Linked DNA regions of Homo sapiens: region 1 is linked to region 2. The links come from fine-mapping of genetic effects on gene expression. A gene starts in region 2. The other region holds a variant in brackets. All regions are shown on one strand. Distances are between the middles of the regions.

What was found. PIP is the estimated chance that this variant, and not a neighbour inherited with it, causes the effect.
Region 1: its variant is the best candidate, but not a certain one, in a credible set for the expression of TMEM91 in whole blood (TOPMed, PIP 0.87).

The regions. Positions count from the first base shown.
Region 1 is chr19:41,404,124-41,409,496 of GRCh38, reverse strand. The region is part of intron 1 of BCKDHA (branched chain keto acid dehydrogenase E1 subunit alpha); the gene reads right to left. Among named protein-coding and RNA genes, the nearest start is that of BCKDHA, 9.0 kb to the right of the region's middle. RefSeq lists enhancers at 1,016-1,971, 1,972-2,926. The variant G/A (reference allele first, on the strand shown) is at 3,132.
Region 2 is chr19:41,373,697-41,379,069 of GRCh38, reverse strand. TMEM91 (transmembrane protein 91) reads right to left here and starts at 2,537. Exons shown (of 4, transcript NM_001098821.2): 1 at 2,216-2,537; 2 at 551-789. The coding sequence starts at 760. RefSeq lists a silencer at 2,292-2,421.

The sequences.
Region 1 (5,373 bases), 30 kb before region 2:
GACTCATTCAACAAATATTTGAGCACCTGACATGTTCCAAGCCCTGTGCTGGGTTCTGGGGACCTAAGACAGGCAAGATATCTGTCCTTGCTGCCTAGCAGGGAGGGCAGACACTAAACAAGTAACAATGATGGTGGTTCATATTATCCTATAGCAGAAGAAAGCGAGGGTAAGGCTTCCCTGGGGAAGTGATGTTAGAGCTGAAACCTGAGGGATAACCAGGAGGCAGGGAAAGCACATTCTCGGCAAGGTGTATAGAACATGCAAAAGACAAAAAGTGGCCAGGCACAGTGGCTTATGCCTGTAATCCCAACACTTCGGGAGGCTGAGACCAGCCTGGCCAACATGGTGAAACCCCATGTCTACCAAAAATACAAAAATTAGCTGGGCGTGGTTGCGCACACCTGTAATCCCAGCTACTCAAGAGGCTGAGGCAGGAGAATCACTTGAATCCGGGAAGCGGAGGTTGCAATAAGCCCAGATTGCACCAACACATCCCAGCCTGGGCAACAGAGACCCTGCCACACACACAAAAAAAGACAAAAGGCAAGGAATAGTGTGTCCTTCATGGAAGACAGAAGGAGCTCAGGGCCTGGCAAGGTGGCTCATATCTGTAATCCCAACACTTTGGGCTCAAGGATTACTTGAGCCCAGGTGAGCCCAGGAGTTCAAGACCAGCCTGAGATCACATCTCTACAAAAAATTTTAAAAATTACTCAAGCATGGTAACATACACCTATAGTCCCAGCTACTTGGAAGGCTGAGGTGGGAGAATCGCTTGACCCCAGGAGGTGGAGGCTGCAGTAAGCCATGATCACACCACTGCACTCCAGCCTGGGCAACAGAGCAACATGCTGTCTCAAACAAAAAAAAAAGCTCAGAGGGGCTGGAGGAGTCCTGCAAGGACATCACACCTCCTCAGGTCAGATGAGGAATGGCTGAGAAAGCCCAGGAGACCTGTGAGAAGCCTATAAATGCTCAAAGGGATATGAACCCACTGGGACTCTTAGCTCTGGAGCTAGGCAGCCTAGAACCAGCCGAGGCGTTGCAATAGCTCCCCCTTATGAAGCACCTGCTGTAAGCCAGCTGAGCCTGGCAGGCACAAGCCTACTAACTCCTCGGGGAATTTGTGAGGTTGATTATCTGCCATTGCCCTTGAGTAGATGAGGAAACCGAGGCCTGGGGAGGTAAAATAACCTGCACCAAACCACAAATTTAAAAAAAAAAAAAAAAAGGTGGGGATGCTGGGCAGTGGCTTACGCCTGTAATCCTAGCACTTTGGAAGGCCAAGGCAGGAGGATCACATGAGCTCAGGAGTTTGAGACCAGCCTGGGCAACAGTGAGAAACCCTGTCTCCACAAAAAAATACAAACATTAGAAAGGCATGGTGACACATGCCTGTGGTCCCAGCTACTTGGGAGGCTGAGGCAGGAGGACTGCTTGAACCTGGAAGGATGAGGCTGTAGTGAGCTGAGACTGTGCCACTGCACTCCAGCCTGGGGGACAAAGTGAGACCCTGTCTCAAAAAAAAAAAAAAAAAAAAAAATTACATCAGAACTGGGCTTCCAACGCTGAGATTCAGGCTCCTAGACATCCATGCTCCTCACCCCAACTGCCCCTGCAGCCTGATTTTCAAACATCTGCAACTTTTCTTCCCACTACTCCCGGGATTCCTCCGAGGTCAGTAATGGTGGCTTCACTTCCCACAGATGTTAAAGAATGGCAGGGTTTGCCACAAGCTGGATCTCACACATGCGTGCTCAAATGTGTCCCTCCGTCTTCCTTTAACTGCAGTGAACAAGCTGTCCACAGTTCTAGCGGGGTAGCATGTTCAGTGTGTGTATTTATTTGCATTTGTAGTCGTGAGGAAATTACACTCCCAATGGCAGGGCAGATTCAGGCCTGGCAATGTCACTGCAGGCCTCCCCTTGTGAGGAGGAAACAGCCGGCCTCTTGCAGCACAGTGCTTCCCCCTTCTGAGTACCCAGCATAGCCAGACACTGACCTAGAAGATTGCTTTGTTTCGTGTCTGTCTCCCACACACACCACAATCCCAGGAAGGCAGAGACAGCGTCCAGGTTGCCTTCACAGCAGGCACTCAAGAGGGAATTCCTGAGTGAATGCATGAATGGGCTGTTAAGTTCCCTGGCTCTGGAGTTCAACTGCCCTGGGTTCTAATTTCTTAGCTCATTGTGTGGCTCTCTGCAAAAACACTTCACCTCTCTGAATTTCCTTATCTGTAAGAAGGCTGCAGAACACCACGTGAAAAGTTGCTAAGTTAACTCACACCAGGGGTTCAGCACCGATCTGGGACGTATTACATACTCAAAACTTGGTAAGAGAGAGAAAAACAAAATCTAGGAAGGTGAGAAGTGGGAGAAAGGGAAGTGACTACACTGTATGAGATAGGGAAAAGAGGAGCTGGGAAGAACTAACTGCACCTTAAAGTGGATACTAAAATCAAACTGTGGCGATGTGCAGCGGCTCATGCCTGTAATCCCAGTACTTTGGGAGGCTGAGGTGGGAGGATCACTTAAGGCCAGTGGTTCGAGATCAGCCTAGGCAACATAGTGAGTCCAGCCTAGGCAAAACCCTCGTCTCTGAAAAATTTTTAAATTAGCCAGGAAGGCTGGGCGTGGTGGCTCACGCCTGTAATCCCAGCACTTTGGGAGTCCGAGGCAGGCAGATCACCTGAGGTCAGGAGTTCAAGACCAGCCTGGCCAACATAGTGAAACCCTGTCTCTACTAAAAATACAAAAAACAGCCGTGCATGATGGTAGGTGCCTGTAATCCCAGCTACTTGGGAGGCTGAGGCAGGAGAATGGCTTGAACCTGGGAGGCGGATGTTGCAGTGAGCCAAGATGGCACCATTGCACTCCAGCCTGGGTGACAAGAGTGAGACTCTATCTAAAAAAAAAAAAAAAAATTAGCTGGGAATGGTGGCATTTACATGTAGTCCAGATACTGGAGTTGCGGGAGGCTGAGGTGAGAGGATGGCTTGAGCCCAGGAGGTCAAGGCTGCAGTGAGCCATGACTGCACCATTGCACTCCAGCCTGGGCAACAAAGTGATACCCTGTCTCAAAGAACAATAAAACCAAACTGTGGCCCCAGCAGATACTCCAGAGAGGGA[G/A]ACTGAGGCACAGGGGAGACGGCATGCTGATGGAAGAGGACCGAAGGCTGAAGTCTTCAGACGGGCACTAAGAGGGGAGGCCAGAGTCTGAGAACAAACCACTGTGTCAGGGCAGGACTGTCAGCCTCTAGAGGCTGGACAGCTATCTTCACGGCACCCCAGTGTGCTCCACATACTGCAGCTGGGTCTCGGCTGTACCCTCCTCCCCTCTTTGCTGGGCTGGTGGAGATAATGGTAGTCCCCAGCCCCAGGGTTGCTGCCCCAATTCAGTGAGCTATGCAAAGGGCTCCACGCTGTGCCTGGTCCTGAGGAAATGCTCCATAATGGGAGTGGGTGGCCAAATGCCTGCAGAGGAAGGATGCGACTCCACCCATCTGTTCCTCTAGTTTTTGGAAGGGGGTGGGGGAGTCTGTCCCGGTGGCCAGTGATTTACAATGGCAGAGGCTGCACAGATTTACACAAAGCTTCATGCCACGTCCTCTCCCACCATGCAGGAAAGCACAACCTGCCCGCTCTGGATGGTCTGGTCTGCCCAGGAAGTACTGGGGTGACCCTGGTGGAGTCACTTGAAGGCACCATGGCTAAGCGCATGGACTCTAACTGAGCAGACCGCTGCCTGATTATGTGACTTAAACTCCCTGAGCCAAGTGCAGTGGCAGACGCCTGTAATTCTAGCTACTCTGGAGGCTGAGGCAAGAGGATCACTTGAGTCCAGGAGTTCGAGGCCAGCCTGGGAAACATAGTGAGACCTCGTCTCTACAAAAATAAATATATAAATAAAATTTAAGGCCAGGTGTGGTGGTTCACACTTGTAATACCAGCACTTTGGGAGGCCAAGGAGGGAGGATCGCTTGAGCCCAGGAGTTCAAGACCAGCCTGGATAACATGGCAAGACCCCATCCCTACAAAAAATTAGCTGGGCATGGTGGTGCACACCTGTACTCCCCAACTACTTGAGGGGCTGAGGTGGGAGGATCGCTGGAGCCCAAGAGGCTGCAGTGAGCCAAGATCACACCACTGCACTCCAGCCTGGGTGACAAAGTAAGACCTGTCTCAAGGAAAAAAAAAAGAAAAAATTTTTAAAGAAAAACTCCCTGAGCCTCAGTTTCCTCCTGTGTACACCGAGGGTGGTATAAGTACTTATCTCAGGGGTTGTCATGAGGATTAACCGAGTTGACCTGTGTGGATTGCTCAGCCCAGTGCCTGGCACATAATGTTTCATAAACACAAGTAGTGAGTAAGTATTTCTCATGATTGTTCTTGTTAAACAGATACTGAACATTTGCTCCAAATCATGCCCTGAACTGAAGGCTAGAGACAGGGAGGGATGAATGACAAACACTGAACACACAAGTTATAATCAAGACAGGTGATCTTACTCACATTGCTTCACCTGACTAGCCTAAAAAAACAAAAAAGTGTCAAGTTGACAGGTAAGCCAAATGAAAATACAGAAATAATATGGCTGGGTGCGGTGGCTCATGCCTGTAATCCCAGCAGATTTGGGAGGCTGAGGCAGGTGAATCACTTAAGGTCAGGAGTTCATGACCAGCCTGTCAGGCTGATCACGATGGTGAAACCCCATCTCTACTAAAAATACAAAAATTAGCCAGGCGTGGTGGCACGCACCTATAGTCCCAGCTACTCAGGAGGCTGAGGCAGGAGAATCGCTTGAACCTGGGAGGTGGAGGTTGCAGTGAGCCAAGATCGCACCACTGCACTCCAGCCTGGGTGACAGAGTGAGACTCCATCTCAAATAAATTAATAAATAAAATTAGGCTGGGCGTGGTGGCTCACGCCTGTAATCCCAGCACTTTGGGAGACCGAGGCGGGCGGATCATGAGGTCGGGAGATCGAGACCATCCTGGCTAATAAGGTGAAACCCTATCTCTACTAAAAATACAAAAAATTAGCCGGGCGTGGTGGCGGGCGCCTGTAGTCCCAGCTACTCGGGAGGCTGAGGCAGGAGAATGGCGTCAACCTGGGAGGCAGAGCTTGCAGTGAGCCGAGATTGTGCCACTGCACTCCAGCCTGGGTGACAGAGCAAGACTACATCTCAAAAAAATAAATAAATAAATAAAATTTTGGCCGGGCACAGTGGCTTATGCTTATAATCTCAATACTTTGGGAGGCCAGGGCAGGCAGTTCACTCGAAGCCAGGAGTTCAAGACCAGCCTGGCCAATATGGCGAAACCCCATCTCTACTAAAGACACAAAAATTAGCCAGGCATGGTGGTGCATG
Region 2 (5,373 bases):
TTGAGCTCAGGAGTTTGAGACCAGCCTGGGCAACATGACAAAACCTCTTCTCTACAAAAAACACCAAAAAATTAGCCAGGCATGGTGGCACATGCCTGTGGTCCCAGCTACTCAGGAGGCTGAGGTGGGAGGATTGCTTAAGCCCGGGAGGTCAAGGTTGCAGTAAACTATGATCGCTCCACTGCACTCCAGCCTGGGCAACAGAGCGAGACCCTGTCTCTCTCTCTCTCTCTCTCTCTCTCTCTCACACACACACACAAAGAGGGAGACAGCAGGGTGGACAAAAGCCAGAGGTGCATGCACTCTGAAGACACCAACCAGCGGAGTCTGAGATCAGAGGGAAGACAGAGCCAAAAGCCAGGCAACAAAGATGAGAGACATAAAACAAGAAGAACCGTAACTGGAAATCTCAGAAGCCCACACACAGCTGGGAAGTGAGACTCCAGGCCTAAGGCAGATCGGCACAGCTGTCAACCTGCCAGATGCTGGCCTTAGTGGGGCTCACCCCAGCCCCCTCCCGTGCCTTCCACTAAGGCCTGCTGTTTCCTACCTCAACATCAGGGGGCCTTGGTTCCCCCAGGCCAGCGCTCACGGAGGGAAGAGGCGGTGACAGGAACTGCAAACCCCTCAGGGACTCGGCAAAGGCTATCTCTCTTAAGGGGGACCCCAGCTCATGCCTGCCAGGCTTCTGGGCAGGGGTCTCACATTCTGTGCCCTCCAGCAGAGGCTGTTGAAGCTCACGAAGACTAGGGCTGTCCATGGCTTTGGGGAAACTCCAGGAGGGGTTTCCTAGGGGTAGGGGGAAGAAAAAGACAAGTTGTAAAAGTCTCACTTCACTCAACCTCTGACCCCTTGCTTTAGAGAGACTCAGGCAGAGACTAGTTAGTGCAGTGGTCCTCAGACCCATTTTACAGATACAGAAGCTGAGGCCCAGAGAGAAAAAAAGATTGGCCTCAGGTTATGAAGAGAACTCAGGGGTCTGGACATTCAATTTTGGGCATTTCTCTCTCTCTCTCTTTTTTTTTTTTTTTTTTGAGACAAAGTCTCCATCTGTTGCCCAGGCAGATCCACCACTGCAGATCCGCTAGAGTGCAGTGGCATGATCTCAGCACACTGCAGCCTCCACCTCCCGGGTTCAAACCATTCTGCCTCAGCCTCCCGAGTAGCTGGGATTACAGGCGCCCACCACCATGCCCGGCTAATTTTTTTTTTTGTATTTTTAGTAAAGATAGGGTTTCACTGTGTTAACCAGGCTGGTCCCGAACTCCTGACCTTAGGGGATCCACCAGCCTTGGCCTCCCAAAGTGCTGGGATTACAGGCGTGAGCCACCGCACCCAGCCAAATTCTGGGCATTTCTCTCAGGCAAAAGCCACATACCCATCACACTTACCCCAATAAGTTGCAGCACCTGTTGCACCATGCCTTACACACTTACCTGCCCCACAAACACCCCCAATATCCATCCCAGGTTCATACCGCGTGACCACCTATCCAGGCCCAGGCACCCCTCCCAGTCACACACACACCCATCCCCTACCCCCAGTGCTGCCTGGAACTGCACTCTAGTCTACATTCCCCATCCTCTGTCCCCTAGACCTGCCCCCCGAAGTCCCCTGCCACACAGCCCCATCTAGGCAAGCCCAGCCTCCACCTCCACACATTCATCTCCCAAAGGACTCCTTGAATATTTGCCCCAAAACATCAGCTCCCAGAAAACACCCCTTTCAGGTCCCCAACCTTCTTACACATTTATCCCAATTGACTCCGTGCACAACCCTACTCCCCACTGCATCACAAACCACAGACACCTGTGCACACACGCACACATGCACCCCGGCACTCTCTCCTATTCTCATGACCTCTGGCATGCCTGCCCCACTCATCAGGCCCAGGCACCCCTGCCCTACTCCACCCACACACCTATGACTCCACACAACTCCCACACATGCACCAGCTCTCCAGAATCCTTTGCACACCTCGCCCCCATAAACACCCTCAACCCCAGCACACACATACACGTACACACGCAACACAACCAGAAAGAATATTCTTCTTCTCGTCCTACGATCCCCCTGGAAGGTCCCCAAGCCTCCTGCCTGCTCATTCCAAACCTTGACTGAGCCGATTTCCTCGCCAAAGCTTTGCCCTCTCATCCCCAACTCCAGGACCCAGGGAAGGGACTGTGACCCCCACCCACCTACGTCCCTCACTCACCGCTCACGATCACAGGCCGGGGCTTCCTGAACCCTCGCAATGACACTTGCCCGGACCCTGCCACCGAGGATCCAAGGGGCGCTGGGACCTTGCGCTTTGCTCTACGCGGGTCTCAGCGCCCCGGGCCCGCTGCGCGCGGGGGCGGGGACGGGGCGGGGCGACGGCTTCCCAGGCTCTGTCCCTCCGCGGCGTCCGGCGAGGGATCCCTGAAAGCCGACGTCAGCGTCCAGGAACGGGTTCCTACGACTCCCGGGGGTCTGGGAGCAGGCGGGAATCCTTGGAGAACTGCAGCCCCTTCCTCGTGAGCCCAGGCCCAAGCTCTGCCGGAGGAGGGGGCACCCCGGATTCTCCAGGGCCTTCCTGGCTTGGCCCCGCCTCCCTTCCCCTTTGCGCAATAATAGCCAATAATAATAACAGCAACAAGGACCGTGCGCCCTGTTCTAAGTGCTTTGCAAATAAACTTACATACACATGTATTCCTCAGCACAACCCTAAGAGGCATAATCGTTTATTGTCCTGTTTCACGCGGGAGGAAACTGGCAAGCCGAGGTTAGGTAAATTGCCTAGGGGTACATCATTGGTTCATTGAGGGCAGACTGTACCCAAGCCCTGTGTTAAACGCTTTACATTCATCATCGCATTCATTCTTCCTCTCAGCTCCGGGTTTTTCTTGTTGTTGTTGTTGTTGTCGCTGCTATTTTACTTTGGTTTTTTTGTTTGTTTTGTTTTGTTTTTGAGACGGAGTCTTGCTCTGTCGCCCAGGCTAGAGTGCAGTGGAGTGATCTCGGCTCACCGCAACCTCCGCTTCCCGGGTTCAAGCGATTCTCCTGCCTCAGCCTCCCGAGTAGCTGGGATTACAGGGGCAAGCCACCACGCCCAGCTAATTTTTGTATTTTTAGTAGATGAGATTTCGCTGTGTTGGTCAGGTTGGTCTTGAACTCCTGACCTCAGGTGATCTGCCCGCCTCAGCCTCCCAAAGTGTTAGGATTACAGGCGTGAGCCACCGCGCCCGGCAGATTTTTTTTTTATTATTATTTTTTAAAAGACGGGGTCTTGCTCTGATCGCCCAGGCTGGAAGGCAGTGGCGCAATCATTGCTCGCTTCAGCCTCAGACTCCTGGGTTCACTGCAGCCTCGGCCTCCCAAAGCGGTGGGATTACAGGTGTGAGTCACCGCGCCTGGCCTATTTTGTTTTGGGGTGTTTTTTTGCGGAGGAGTGCTGAAGGGGTGTTGGCTTGTTTTTAATCCCTGTTTTGCAGATAAAGAAACGGGCTCACGGGCCGGGCGCAGTGGCTCACGCCTGTAATCCCAACACTTTGGGAGGCCGAGGCGGGCGGATCACGAGGTCAGGAGATCCAGACCATCCTGGCTGACACGGTGAAACCCTGTCTCTACTAAAAATACAAAAAATTAGCCGGGCTTGGTGGCGGGCGCTTGTAGTCCCAGCTACTTGGGAGGCTGAGGCAGGAGAATGGCGTGGACCCGGGAGGCGGAGCTTGCAGTGAGCCGAGATCGCGCCACTGCACTCCAGCCTGGGAAACAGCAAGACTCCGTCTCAAAAAAAAAAAAAAAAAAAAAAAAAGAAAAGAAAATAAACGGGCTCACTTGCATGCTCACTTGGCCACAGTAAACAGCTGGTACCAAGCCCAGCATATTGTAACCCCGGGCTGTGTTCCTGTGGCCCTTGCTAAGCCAATGGGTGAGGAGGAAGCAGAGGCAGGTGGGTTAGGAGTTTCTAGGGAAAGAAGGCTGAGGAGTGGGGTCCAGTAGGGGGTGATGCTCTGATTGTCACGTGGTACAGTGATGTTCATGAGTCAGCATTTGGACCCACATAGACCTGGTTTCCTTTCCAGGCTCTTTGTTTGTTTGTTTGAGATGGAGTTTCACTCTTGTTGCCCAGGCTGGAGGGCAATGGCGTGATCTCGGCTCACCGCAACCTCCGCCTCCCAGGTTCAAGCGATTCTCCTGCCTCAGCCTCCCGAGTAGTTAGGATTACAGGAATGCGCCATCACACCTGGCTAATTTTGTATTTTTGGTAGAGATGGGGTTTCTCCATATGAGTCAGGCTGGTCTTGAACTCCCGACCTCAGGTGACCCACCCGCCTCAGCCTCCCAAAGTGCTGGGATTACAGGTGTGAGCCACCATTCCTGGCCCCTTTCCAGGCTCTTTAAGTCACTGAGTGTGTGGCCTCTAGACAATGCCTTCACCTCTCTGAACCCCTATTTCTTCACCTACAAAATGGGGATAATGCTCCTTGCCTCTTATGTGATAACATATGTAGAGTACTTAGAGTTGCTGCAACAACAAATGTCCAACATTGGGAGCCTCTCTGAACCTATTTTGGTTTAGGTGCTGCCTAGGAAATAGAAAAATAAAAAATAAAAAGAACAGATATCCAACATTTATCCAAAGCCTGGCAAAGAAAGCACTCTGAACACATTTGATGGTGTTTATTAATATTATTATTTACATCCATCTCCATCGGACTGATTACAAGACTATCATCGTCTTGCAAGCTTCCACCTCCTTCATGGAGCCTTGTATAGGCCTCCCTTCCCAGAAGCCCTCCGTCTCACCAGACTGGAGGATTCCCTGGCCTTTGTGGGGCCGGAGTTCCCTCGCTCCAGGGCTCCAGGGCTCCTTGCCAAGAGTCCAGATGCTGGCGCTGGCACCGGCCCCACTCCCAGGGAGAACAGATGGCGTCTGCAAGTGCACTTGGCTCAGCCAGTTTCTGGCAGACGACAGAAGCAGGGAGACCCACGGGAGGGTAGACGAGAGCGTGAGGGGGCAGGATTGTTTTACTCAGGAGGGATGCCCTGTTACTTTCTATCTCAACCTTGCTCTCATTCTTTTCATATTTCTATGAAGCATACTGTAGGCCAGGTGCGGTGGCCCACGCCTGTAATCCCAGCCCTTTGGGAGGCCGAGGAGGGAGGACTGCTTGAGCCTAGGAGTTCGAAACCAGCCTGGGCGACATAGCAAAACCCCAGTCAGCAAGGCTGGAGTGCAGTGGCACGATCTCAGGTCACTGCAACCTCCATCTCCTGGGTTCAAGCCATTCTCCCACCTCAGCCTCCCAAGTAGCTGGGATTATAGGAACCTGCCACCATGCCCAGCTAATTTTTGTACTTTTAGTAGAGACGGAGTTTCACCATGTT